3 linked regions of the Homo sapiens genome follow. The protein of the gene in region 1 interacts with the protein of each later gene in a biochemical or structural test. Each region holds a gene or a part of one and is shown in the gene's direction. Other genes may lie near its edges. The genes, in order: SHANK1, PLCB2 and SLC15A2.

What was found.
Region 2: the proteins of SHANK1 (region 1) and PLCB2 interact in a test that uses a peptide from one of them, tested with the Homo sapiens proteins (one large-scale study listed by IntAct).
Region 3: the proteins of SHANK1 (region 1) and SLC15A2 interact in a test that uses a peptide from one of them, tested with the Homo sapiens proteins (one large-scale study listed by IntAct).

Annotation. Positions count from the first base shown.
Region 1 is NC_000019.10:50,702,703-50,706,354, reverse strand, and holds part of SHANK1 (SH3 and multiple ankyrin repeat domains protein 1), read left to right. Parts: intron 1-1,840; coding exon 1,841-1,918; intron 1,919-2,168; coding exon 2,169-2,235; intron 2,236-2,524; coding exon 2,525-2,855; intron 2,856-3,652. UniProt on the Homo sapiens protein: Seems to be an adapter protein in the postsynaptic density (PSD) of excitatory synapses that interconnects receptors of the postsynaptic membrane including NMDA-type and metabotropic glutamate receptors via complexes with GKAP/PSD-95 and Homer, respectively, and the actin-based cytoskeleton.
Region 2 is NC_000015.10:40,297,911-40,301,562, reverse strand, and holds part of PLCB2 (1-phosphatidylinositol 4,5-bisphosphate phosphodiesterase beta-2), read left to right. Parts: exon of another isoform or gene 1-896; intron 897-2,088; coding exon of another isoform or gene 2,089-2,154; exon of another isoform or gene 2,155-2,317; intron 2,318-2,334; coding exon 2,335-2,435; intron 2,436-2,598; coding exon 2,599-2,765; intron 2,766-2,854; coding exon 2,855-3,001; intron 3,002-3,182; coding exon 3,183-3,340; intron 3,341-3,603; coding exon 3,604-3,652. UniProt on the Homo sapiens protein: The production of the second messenger molecules diacylglycerol (DAG) and inositol 1,4,5-trisphosphate (IP3) is mediated by activated phosphatidylinositol-specific phospholipase C enzymes.
Region 3 is NC_000003.12:121,939,294-121,942,089, forward strand, and holds part of SLC15A2 (solute carrier family 15 member 2), read left to right. Parts: intron 1-55; coding exon 56-202; intron 203-1,090; coding exon 1,091-1,195; intron 1,196-1,537; coding exon 1,538-1,714; 3' UTR 1,715-2,796. UniProt on the Homo sapiens protein: Proton-coupled amino-acid transporter that transports oligopeptides of 2 to 4 amino acids with a preference for dipeptides. Transports neutral and anionic dipeptides with a proton to peptide stoichiometry of 2:1 or 3:1.

The DNA of each region.
Region 1 (3,652 bases):
AGAAGGCATCCCTGTCCCCACTGGCCCAGTCCTGCCCCCACCCTTTCCTCCACAATGTGTGTCCCCTTCCTTCTGGGCCTGGCAGAAAGTGTGATTAAGATAGAAGACTTTGGAGTCAGAGAGATCTGGGTTCGAATCCAAGGCTGATAATCACCAGCTGTGTGACCTTGAGCCCCCCCAACCCCCCCTTTTTTTTGAGACAGGGTCTCACTTTGTCACCCAGACTGGAGTGCAGTGGCATGAACAAGGATCTTTGCAGCCTCGACCTCTTGGGCTCAAGTGATCCTCTCACCTCAGCCCCACAAGTAGTTGGGACTACAGGCGTGTGCCACCAAGCCAGGCTAATTTTTTAAAATTTTCTGTACAGACGGGGTTTCGCCATGTTGCCCAGGCTGGTCTCAAACTCCTGGGCTCAAGCGATCCTCCCTCCTCGGCTTCCCAAAGTGCTGGGATTACAGGAGTGAGCCACCACCCCTGGCCCACCTTGGGCTCTTTTGAAAGCCTTAGTTTCCTCCTCTGTAAAATAGAGACAATTTCCATGTCCTGGAATTGTTGGGCAATTCAATGAGCTTCTGCCTCTAAAGTGCCAAGCGCCTGGCACGTAACATGGTAAGCCTCCGTAAGGTCTAGACCTGTGGTTCTCAACCTGGGAGCTTCTGTCTCCCAGGGGACACTTGGCAATGTCTAGAGACATTTTTGGTTGTCATGACTGGGGAGGGGAGTGCTACTGGCATCTAGTGGTAGAGACCGGGGATGCTACTCAACATCCCACAGGGCTCAGAACACCCTCCACAAACCAATGAATCACCAAAGGATTATCCGGCCCCAACATCCAGTGGAACATAGCATGAGCACATACCCTAAATGCCCTCAAATATCCTAGTGGCCATGTTAAAGAGAAGGGGAAAATAATTAGGTGACATTTATTTTAACAACATATTTTACTTATAACAGTGTATCTAAAACATTATCATTTCAACATAGAATCAATACAGAAATTATTATTTTTTTTTGAGACAGAGTCTCACTCTGTCACCCAGGCTGGAGTGCAGTGGCAGGATCTCGGCTCACTGCAACCTCCACCTCCTGGGTTCAAGTGATTCTCCCACCTCAGCCTCCTGAGTAGCTGGGATTACACACGCCCACCACCACGCCTGGCTAATTTTTGTATTTTCTGATAGAGACGGGGTTTCACCATGTTGGCCAGGCTGGGCTCAAATACCTGGCCTCAAGTGATCCACTCACCTCAGCCTTCCAAAGTGCTGGGATTACAGGTGTGTGTCACCACACCTGACATTTTTTTTTTCTGGGGGGGAGACAGGTCCCTGCTCTGTCACTCAGGCTTGATCTCAGCTCACTGCAGCCTCCAACTCCTGAGCTCAAGCGATCCTCCCACCTCAGCCTCCCAAGTATTCGGGACTCCAGGCACCCACCACCTGCCTGGCTAATTTCTGTTTATTTTTTTGTAGAGACGGGGGGCGTCTCACTATGTCACCCAGGCTGGTCTGGAACTCCTGCCTTGGCCTCCCACAGTCTTAGGATTACAGGCTTGAGCCACCACGCCTGGCTATAGACATTTAAATTCTTTCTTGTTTTCATATGGCATATCCTTGAAATCCAGTGTGTAGTTCGCATGCATGGTGCATCTCCGTTTGGGCCGGCCACGTTTAAACTAAAGTGCTCCTGGTCCGTACCTGGCAGGTGGCTGCTGTCCTCAGTGGTGCGGGTTTAGGGTGGAGTATTTATTCCTGAGGCTCTTAGCACAGAACCTGCATCCACTCATGGTGATCTTAATTTTTTCTCTCTCTCTTTGTCCTGTGCCACTGGCCATTACCCGCAGGAGACCTGTGCCAGGATCCTCCTGTATCGAGGTGCCGACAAGGATGTGAAGAACAACAACGGACAGACCCCCTTCCAGGTCTGGGGCTGCAGGGGATGTGCTGGAGTTTCCAGGGCTAAGGAAAGGGTGACAGTGACACCCAGTGGATAAGGAAGGGGACAATGAGGAAAGCAAGGAGACAGGCCGTGGAGGGGGAGCTGGAAGAAGACAGAGGGCGGCATTGTCGGAGTGGAAGGTTTGGGTCGGGCCAGGGACCTCGCCACGTTCCCTGCCCTCTCTCTGCTGCCTGGGCCCCCCTGGCCGACCTGCCTCTACCCCCTCCCTCCAGGTGGCAGTGATTGCTGGGAATTTTGAGCTGGGGGAGCTGATCCGAAACCACCGAGAACAGGATGTGGGTGAGTGACAGGGAGCTCGGACTGCACAGAGAACCTGGGGCGGTTGAGGTTTCATGGTGGGATGGGGGAGTTGGGGGACCTGACTTGGGGGCCAGGATAGGATGGAGAAAACCCTAGAGGACCAAAAATGTCTGGATGGTGGTGGGGGAGCAATTCCAGGCCCCCCTCCCTTTCTCATCTCTGTCTTTCTCCCTCATGCCTCTCTCCCACCATCTCTTGCCCCCGCATGGCCCCCTGCTTGCCTTTTCTCCCCTAACATCTGCCCCCCGCCGCCACTGTGCCCTCTCAGTGCCCTTCCAGGAGTCCCCCAAGTACGCGGCCCGGCGACGGGGGCCCCCAGGCACAGGGCTGACGGTGCCCCCGGCGCTGCTGCGGGCCAACAGTGACACCAGCATGGCGCTGCCCGACTGGATGGTGTTCTCCGCCCCGGGGGCCGCGTCCTCTGGGGCCCCTGGCCCTACCTCAGGGTCCCAGGGCCAGTCGCAGCCCTCGGCCCCCACCACCAAGCTCAGCAGCGGGACCCTCCGAAGTGCCAGCAGCCCCCGGGGTGCCAGGGCCCGCTCTCCATCCCGAGGGAGGCACCCTGAGGACGCCAAGAGGCAGCCCCGAGGCCGGCCCAGGTAGGGGAGGCAGCCCTGGCTCCACAGTCCCCAGCCCCGTCAAATCCCCTCTCCAGATCGGCGGCTTCCCCCGAGGCCAGCCCAGCTGCCTTCCTCTGTAGGCCCTCATCCAAGTCCCTAGTGTCACCTTGGGGTAAAGCAAGGCCTTGGGAGCTACTGTCCCGACTCCACCCCCGGTGCACCACATGTTAGCTGGATGTCTGCTCCAGGACAGGGGCCCCAGGCAGAGGGTACCCCAAAGAAACATGGGCCCCAGCCCCTGGGGACAGACAGAATGACAGGGTGAGGTGGAGGGAAGCTGAACAGGAAGAGGATGGGGGGGGTGGCAGGGACTTGAGGGGGACAGAGAGGTCACTCTGGAGGGAGGATGAGGAAGGGGCGGGGGACATTCCGGGGTCAGGAAGCCCACCTGGCTAGAGGAGGGTGAGAAGGAGGCGAAGGCCAGCCAGGCGTGTCCCGAGGAAGTGGGGGAGAGGCTGGCAACGGCGGGCAGAGGAGTTGGACCTGACCCAGGAGGAAGCTGGGAGTCGCGGAAGGCTCGTGAGCGGAGGGATGACACAGTCCCAGCTCAGCCTCAGGAAGCTGAATCAGGCGGTGCGCGCAGGACCGTGGGAGGGGGCAGAGCCGGAAGCCAGGAGGCAGGAGAGGGGGCTGGTTGGGGCAGCTGCGGGCAGGCAGAGGGAGCCCCCAAATGCCCTCTTCCTTGGAGGACGCCAGTGCTGGGAAACCCCCCCTCCCCCCTGATGCACCGTCCTCTTCCCCCACCCAAGGACCCCTGTCCTCCCAGAGGTGTCCCC
Region 2 (3,652 bases), on another chromosome or scaffold:
GGATCTGGAAGTCTGCAGCGTGTCGAGGGAGAGGAACTGAACCAAAGGCGGAAGCTGCCAAGATGCAGACTTCTGCTCTGTACAGAAAAGCATTTTTCCCTGTCTTTTTAGTTAAATAATTAATTTTTAATTACAAGTTGTAAGCAGGGTCACCCCATGAAGCAACTTGTGTGAATTACAAAAAGGAGCCCTCTGGGCTGATATGGCCCTGAGCTAGGCTTCAAGCCTGGCCAATGGAGCGAATCTCAGCCCCTGTCCCTGCTTGGCCAGTGCTCTTGTGTGGGTCCCAGCCTATACCCCATGGAGTATTTTCTCCTGGTAAGAATTTGGAACGTTATAAATAAATAAAACCACGACCCCCATTGATCACCTGCCCACATGAATCCCAGGAGGAGCATTTACCCCACAGCCACAGCTCTGCAGAGTTGGTGACTCCTTGATGCAGTCAGTCACAGGGATCCAAATGTGGCGTTGGGGAGAGGTAGGAATGGGCTCCTGCGGCTCCCCTACAGCCAGCAACACTTACCTGTGGTCAGCACACATCCACCCTCCCTCTCTCCTGCTGCCTGAGCTCCTCCCTTGGCTAAGTCCTCCTTATCTATCTGCTTTCCTTGTGTCTCAGTAGAGGCTACTGACCCAACTTTGCTTGGAGCTGAAGCTCCAGAGACAGGGAGGGGTTTGGGGAGATCCAGTTAGACTCTCCTGCTCAGACCCTCTGCTCCAAACTAAGACTGATGTTGGCCTTCCAGTGTGATTCTGAAAGACATTTAATGTTTTTTTTGGGGGGGGAAGGAATGCAAAGGTGCAGAATCCCTGAATACCACAAATGTACTTTTCATTTCTATTTCTATAGATTTGCCTATTCTGGTGGTAAAGTAAATGAAATCATAAATATATGCTTTTCGATGTCAGGCTGTATTCATTTCTCATAATGTTTTCAAGGTTTATCCATGTTGTAGCATGCATGAGTACTTCATTCCTTTTTACCACCTAATAATATTCCATTGTATGGATATACCACATTTTGTTCATCTGTTTATCAGTTGGTAGATGTTTGGGTTTTTTGTACTTTTTGGTTATGAATATTCATGTACATGATTTTGTGTGAACATGTGTAAATTCTCTTGGGTATATACCCAGGGGTGGAATTGTTGGGTCATGTGGTCACTCTATATTTAACAATTTGAGAAACCGCCAAACTGTTTTCTAAAGTGAGAGCATTGTGTAGGGATTTATTTATTTATTTTTGAGACAGAGTCTCACTCTGTTGCCCGGGCTGGAGTGCAGTGGCGTGATCTCAGTTCACTGCAACCTCTGCCTCCCAGGTTCAAGCAATTCTCCTGCCTCAGCCTCCCAAGTAGCTGGGATTACAAGCATGTGCCACCATGCTGGGCTAATTTTTGTATTTTTAGTAGAGATGGGGTTTCACCATGTTGGCCAGGCTGGTCTCGAACTCCTGACCTCAGGTGATCCACCCTCCTCGGCCTCCCAAAGTGCTGTGTGGGGTTTTAGGTTAGTCACATCCCGCTGACACTTGTGATTGTCTGTTTTTTGTTTTAGCCATCCTAGTGGGAGTGGTATCTCATTGTGGTTTTGATTTGCATGTCTCTAACTACAAATTATATTGAGCACCTTTTCTGTGTTTATTAGTCACTTATATATCTTCTTTGGAGAAATACCTGTCCAAATCCATTGTCCATCTTTCAACTGGGTTGTCTTTTTGTTGACTTATCTCTTATCGGATATCTGATTTGCAAATATTTTATCCCATTCTGTGGGTTACCTTTTCACTTTCTTGATGGTGTCCTTTGAAGCACAAAAGTTTTTAATTTTGATGACGTTTAATTTATCTTTCTTTGTCCCGGTGCTTTTGGTGTCTCCAAATATTATTGTTGAATTGTCCTCCTTTCAATTCTATCAGTTTTTGTTTTATATATTATGGGGTTCTGTTGTTAGGTGCATATATGTTTATATTCAAATTGCTTCTTTTTGAATATTTGTCCTCCACTTAAAAAAGATAGCCTACTAGCCTGGCAAGCAGCATCATTTCTTCTGACCTCTTTTCTACCTCATTCTGGTTATTCTTAGTTCCGATCCTGCCCCAGCCAATGGAATAGCCACTGTACAAAATCAGGGTCAGAGCAAACCAGCTAAGCATGCTCTCTGCTCAGCAACCAGGGCCTTGAGAAGTGGATGCTTGGGTGTCCTTGAAGTTCTTCTGTCTGCCTTGAGCCCGCCTTCTGACCAGGTCCCCTTGACCAGGGCTGGGCCGAGTTTGTGGTTCTTAGCTCTGAGAAGGTGAGGGCAGGGGCAATAAGGTTACTATGCCCCTAGAATGACGCCATCAATCCTGAGGACTTCCCAGAACCTGTCTACAAGAGTTTCCTCATGAGCCTCTGTCCTCGGCCAGAAATAGATGAGATCTTCACTTCTTAGTGAGTTTCTTGGGTTGTGCTGGTCATGGGAAAAGGGTGGTGGCTAACAATCCCCTCCTCCCACCTGCCATGCCGGGAGTCAGGAGGCTTCACTGGACAAGGGGGTTGTCTAAGCCTCCAGGCCCAAGGGATATGGACCTGTGCTCTTCTCTCTGGCTTGAAGCCATGCTAAGGCCAAACCCTACATGACGAAGGAGCACCTGACCAAATTCATCAACCAGAAACAGCGGGACTCCCGGCTTAACTCCCTGCTGTTCCCGCCAGCACGGCCTGACCAGGTGCAGGGCCTCATCGACAAGTATGAGCCCAGTGGCATCAATGCACAGAGGGGTGAGGACTAAGGGAACCCCTTGTCCCCTGTGGTCCTGTCCTGCCTTGGCAGCGGGGTTGTAGCCTGACAGCTATCTCCTGTCCCCCAGGCCAGCTGTCACCTGAAGGCATGGTCTGGTTTCTCTGTGGGCCAGAGAACAGCGTGCTGGCCCAGGACAAGCTGCTGCTCCACCACGACATGACGCAGCCACTCAATCATTACTTCATCAACTCGTCCCACAACACCTACCTGACAGGTGGGCCCTGATAACATTGGTGCCAACCTCTGCTTTCACAGGGGTTCCCTGCATCCTCCACAGGGGTTGCCCACATGCTGCTGGCCCTGAGAATAACACAGACCATGATGGAGTGGCGGTAGGGGGAGAGCTGGGCTGCCTTTGGGTGATGCCCTCACCTCTTCCCCATCCTCTGGCTCAGCCGGCCAGTTCTCAGGCCTCTCCTCGGCTGAGATGTACCGCCAGGTGCTGCTCTCTGGCTGCCGTTGCGTGGAGCTAGACTGCTGGAAGGGGAAACCCCCTGACGAGGAGCCCATTATCACCCATGGCTTCACCATGACCACAGACATCTTCTTCAAAGTGAGACCCTGGGCACAGAGGCTGGTGGCCGTGGCAGTAGGGAAGGGCTCTGGGCCAGAAGCTTTGAGGGGTTGGAGGGCTGAAGCTAGAGAAGATGAATGGCTGGAAGGCCTCAGACCATTGGGGACCAGCAGGGATTGGGGGCCAATGGCGGCCATGCAGTTATATGTGTGTATTGAAACTAGGCAGGGGGGAAAAGTGCTATCACGAGACAGGCAGTCGGAACGCTGACCTTCTGTTCATGGAGTCTCCTTCTCCTCCAGGAAGCAATTGAGGCTATTGCAGAAAGCGCCTTTAAGACCTCCCCCTATC
Region 3 (2,796 bases), on another chromosome or scaffold:
GAAATATTTACTTGAGACTACTGACAAGTCCATTTCCATTTTCTCTTTCCCTAAGAACACCAATCAGGGTCTTCAGGCCTGGAAGATTGAAGACATTCCAGCCAACAAAATGTCCATTGCGTGGCAGCTACCACAATATGCCCTGGTTACAGCTGGGGAGGTCATGTTCTCTGTCACAGGTCTTGAGTTTTCTTATTCTCAGGTAAGTTTTTGCAAATAGAAGGTAGAAATTGAGGCATTGCTTGAAGGACAATGAATTTTAATTCTAGCACTGACTTAAATAGGTATGTTATCTCTTTTGGCCTTGGGTACCTTATTTATGACCCTGAACATATATGACCTGAACATCTTAACTCCCCAGGTCATGACAGTACAGCATGGGAGTCTATGATTTTGGGGTTCTAGGAAAGAGATTAAAGATTAAAATGAAGAGCTGCAGAGTCAGACTTCCCGTGTTCAAATTTTGGCTGCATGACCTATTGTGTAACCTTGAGCAAGTAAATTACTATCTCTGTAATGCTGTCGCCCAGGCTGGAGTGCAGTGGCGCGATCTCAGCTCACTGCATTCCAGCCTGAGCGACAGAGCGAGACTCCATCTGCCTCCCCGGCTCAAGCGATTCTCCTGCCTCAGCCTCTTGAGTAGCTGGGATTATAGGCGCACACCACCATTCCTGGCTAATTTTTGTATTTTTAGTAGAGACAGGGTTTCACCATGTTGGCCAGGCTGATCTCTAACTCCTGACCTTGGATGATCTGCCCACCTTGGCCTCCCAAAGTGCTAGGATTACAGGCTTGAGCTACTGCGCCCAGTCTGTAATACTATTTTTTAAATGTATAAGAATACGAATAGAACTTATCTCTTAGGATTGTAATGAAGATTATATGACATAATGAGTTTAAATATATTCAGTTAGGAGCTTCATCTTATTCTTACTGTTTACATTATTAACACCCTCTGAATCAATGTGATAGCTGAACTTAATAAGAGAAGTTCTAACTTGGAAGCTTTTGTGGGAGAAGTTTCCTGGATGCATGGGGCATGAGGGCAGTGAAGGGGGTTTGTTTACTTTCAAACTTGTGTCATCCCCAGGCTCCCTCTAGCATGAAATCTGTGCTCCAGGCAGCTTGGCTATTGACAATTGCAGTTGGGAATATCATCGTGCTTGTTGTGGCACAGTTCAGTGGCCTGGTACAGGTATGGATCTGAGGGAAGCAGGATTCATTTCTACTCAAGTTTTTCCTCCAGCTTTCTCTTCTCCCTTTCCCCCATCTCTCTGCTTCCCACATTCCCCATTCAGTGCTGTGACATGAAATGGGTTAGATATACAGACTTTACCAGGAAAATAGACATATGTAAGTGGCAATAATGACTACAATATACCTATGTGAGGAGAGGCCAGTGAACCCAGTCTTTGTCCAGCAAAAGTCTGGTTAAACTGGTGATCCCAGGTCAGTCTGCTCCCCACTCCTCATCCTGTAAAGATCTCTTTAGTTTCAGGTTTCTCCATATTCTTCTCATATTTATTTCCCCCTGCAGTGGGCCGAATTCATTTTGTTTTCCTGCCTCCTGCTGGTGATCTGCCTGATCTTCTCCATCATGGGCTACTACTATGTTCCTGTAAAGACAGAGGATATGCGGGGTCCAGCAGATAAGCACATTCCTCACATCCAGGGGAACATGATCAAACTAGAGACCAAGAAGACAAAACTCTGATGACTCCCTAGATTCTGTCCTGACCCCAATTCCTGGCCCTGTCTTGAAGCATTTTTTTTCTTCTACTGGATTAGACAAGAGAGATAGCAGCATATCAGAGCTGATCTCCTCCACCTTTCTCCAATGACAGAAGTTCCAGGACTGGTTTTCCAGTACATCTTTAAACAAGGCCCCAGAGACTCTATGTCTGCCCGTCCATCAGTGAACTCATTAAAACTTGTGCAGTGTTGCTGGAGCTGGCCTGGTGTCTCCAAATGACCATGAAAATACACACGTATAATGGAGATCATTCTCTGTGGGTATGCAAAGTTATGGGAATTCCTTTATAGGTAACTGCCATTTAGGACTGATGGCCCTAATTTTTGAGGTGCTGATTTAGAGGCAAAATTGCAGAATAACAAAGAAATGGTATTTCAAGTTTTTTTTTTTATAAGCAATGTAATTATGCTATTCACAGGGGCCTCAAGAATTGGTATGTATGATGTGATCTGGTCCAGCCAGGGCCTGGCTTGTCAGCTCTCTAGGTTTGATATGACTTTAGTAAATTTGTCAATATAGATGGTAGGAAGCAGAATGCCATTTTATTAAAACACAGGAGAAGTTATATCTCTCTGATTATGATAGTATTTTATTTACTTATCCAAACCCTCCTTTCTCAGTATGGATAGATCATGGAAACCAGATTAGAGATAGTAAGCATTAGTAAACATTGTTCTGGAGAACAGGAACAGGTGTAAGTTGTAGAAATCCTGAAGAGCCAGTCATTCTTTTACAGAGTACATTCTTCTTAGCCTCTATGGCGCTGGTCTATGCCCTTCAGTGAACAGTTGTATAAACAATAATTATAATTTGCAACCTTGTCTTGTCAACCTTGCTGATCCAGCTTTTTCTTATTATTACACCTTGTCTTGCTTATTGCAGCAAATATTCAATAACAACAATGTTTCTATAAGTCCAACTTCCTTTATTAATGTTTCCATTTAGCCTCAAAAATATCAAAGTAGTTCCTTTTTGATGTTGTTTTCCTGATTTACTTTTCCCATAAGTTTTAAATACCATTTCTGCCTTGAAGCCTAGAAATT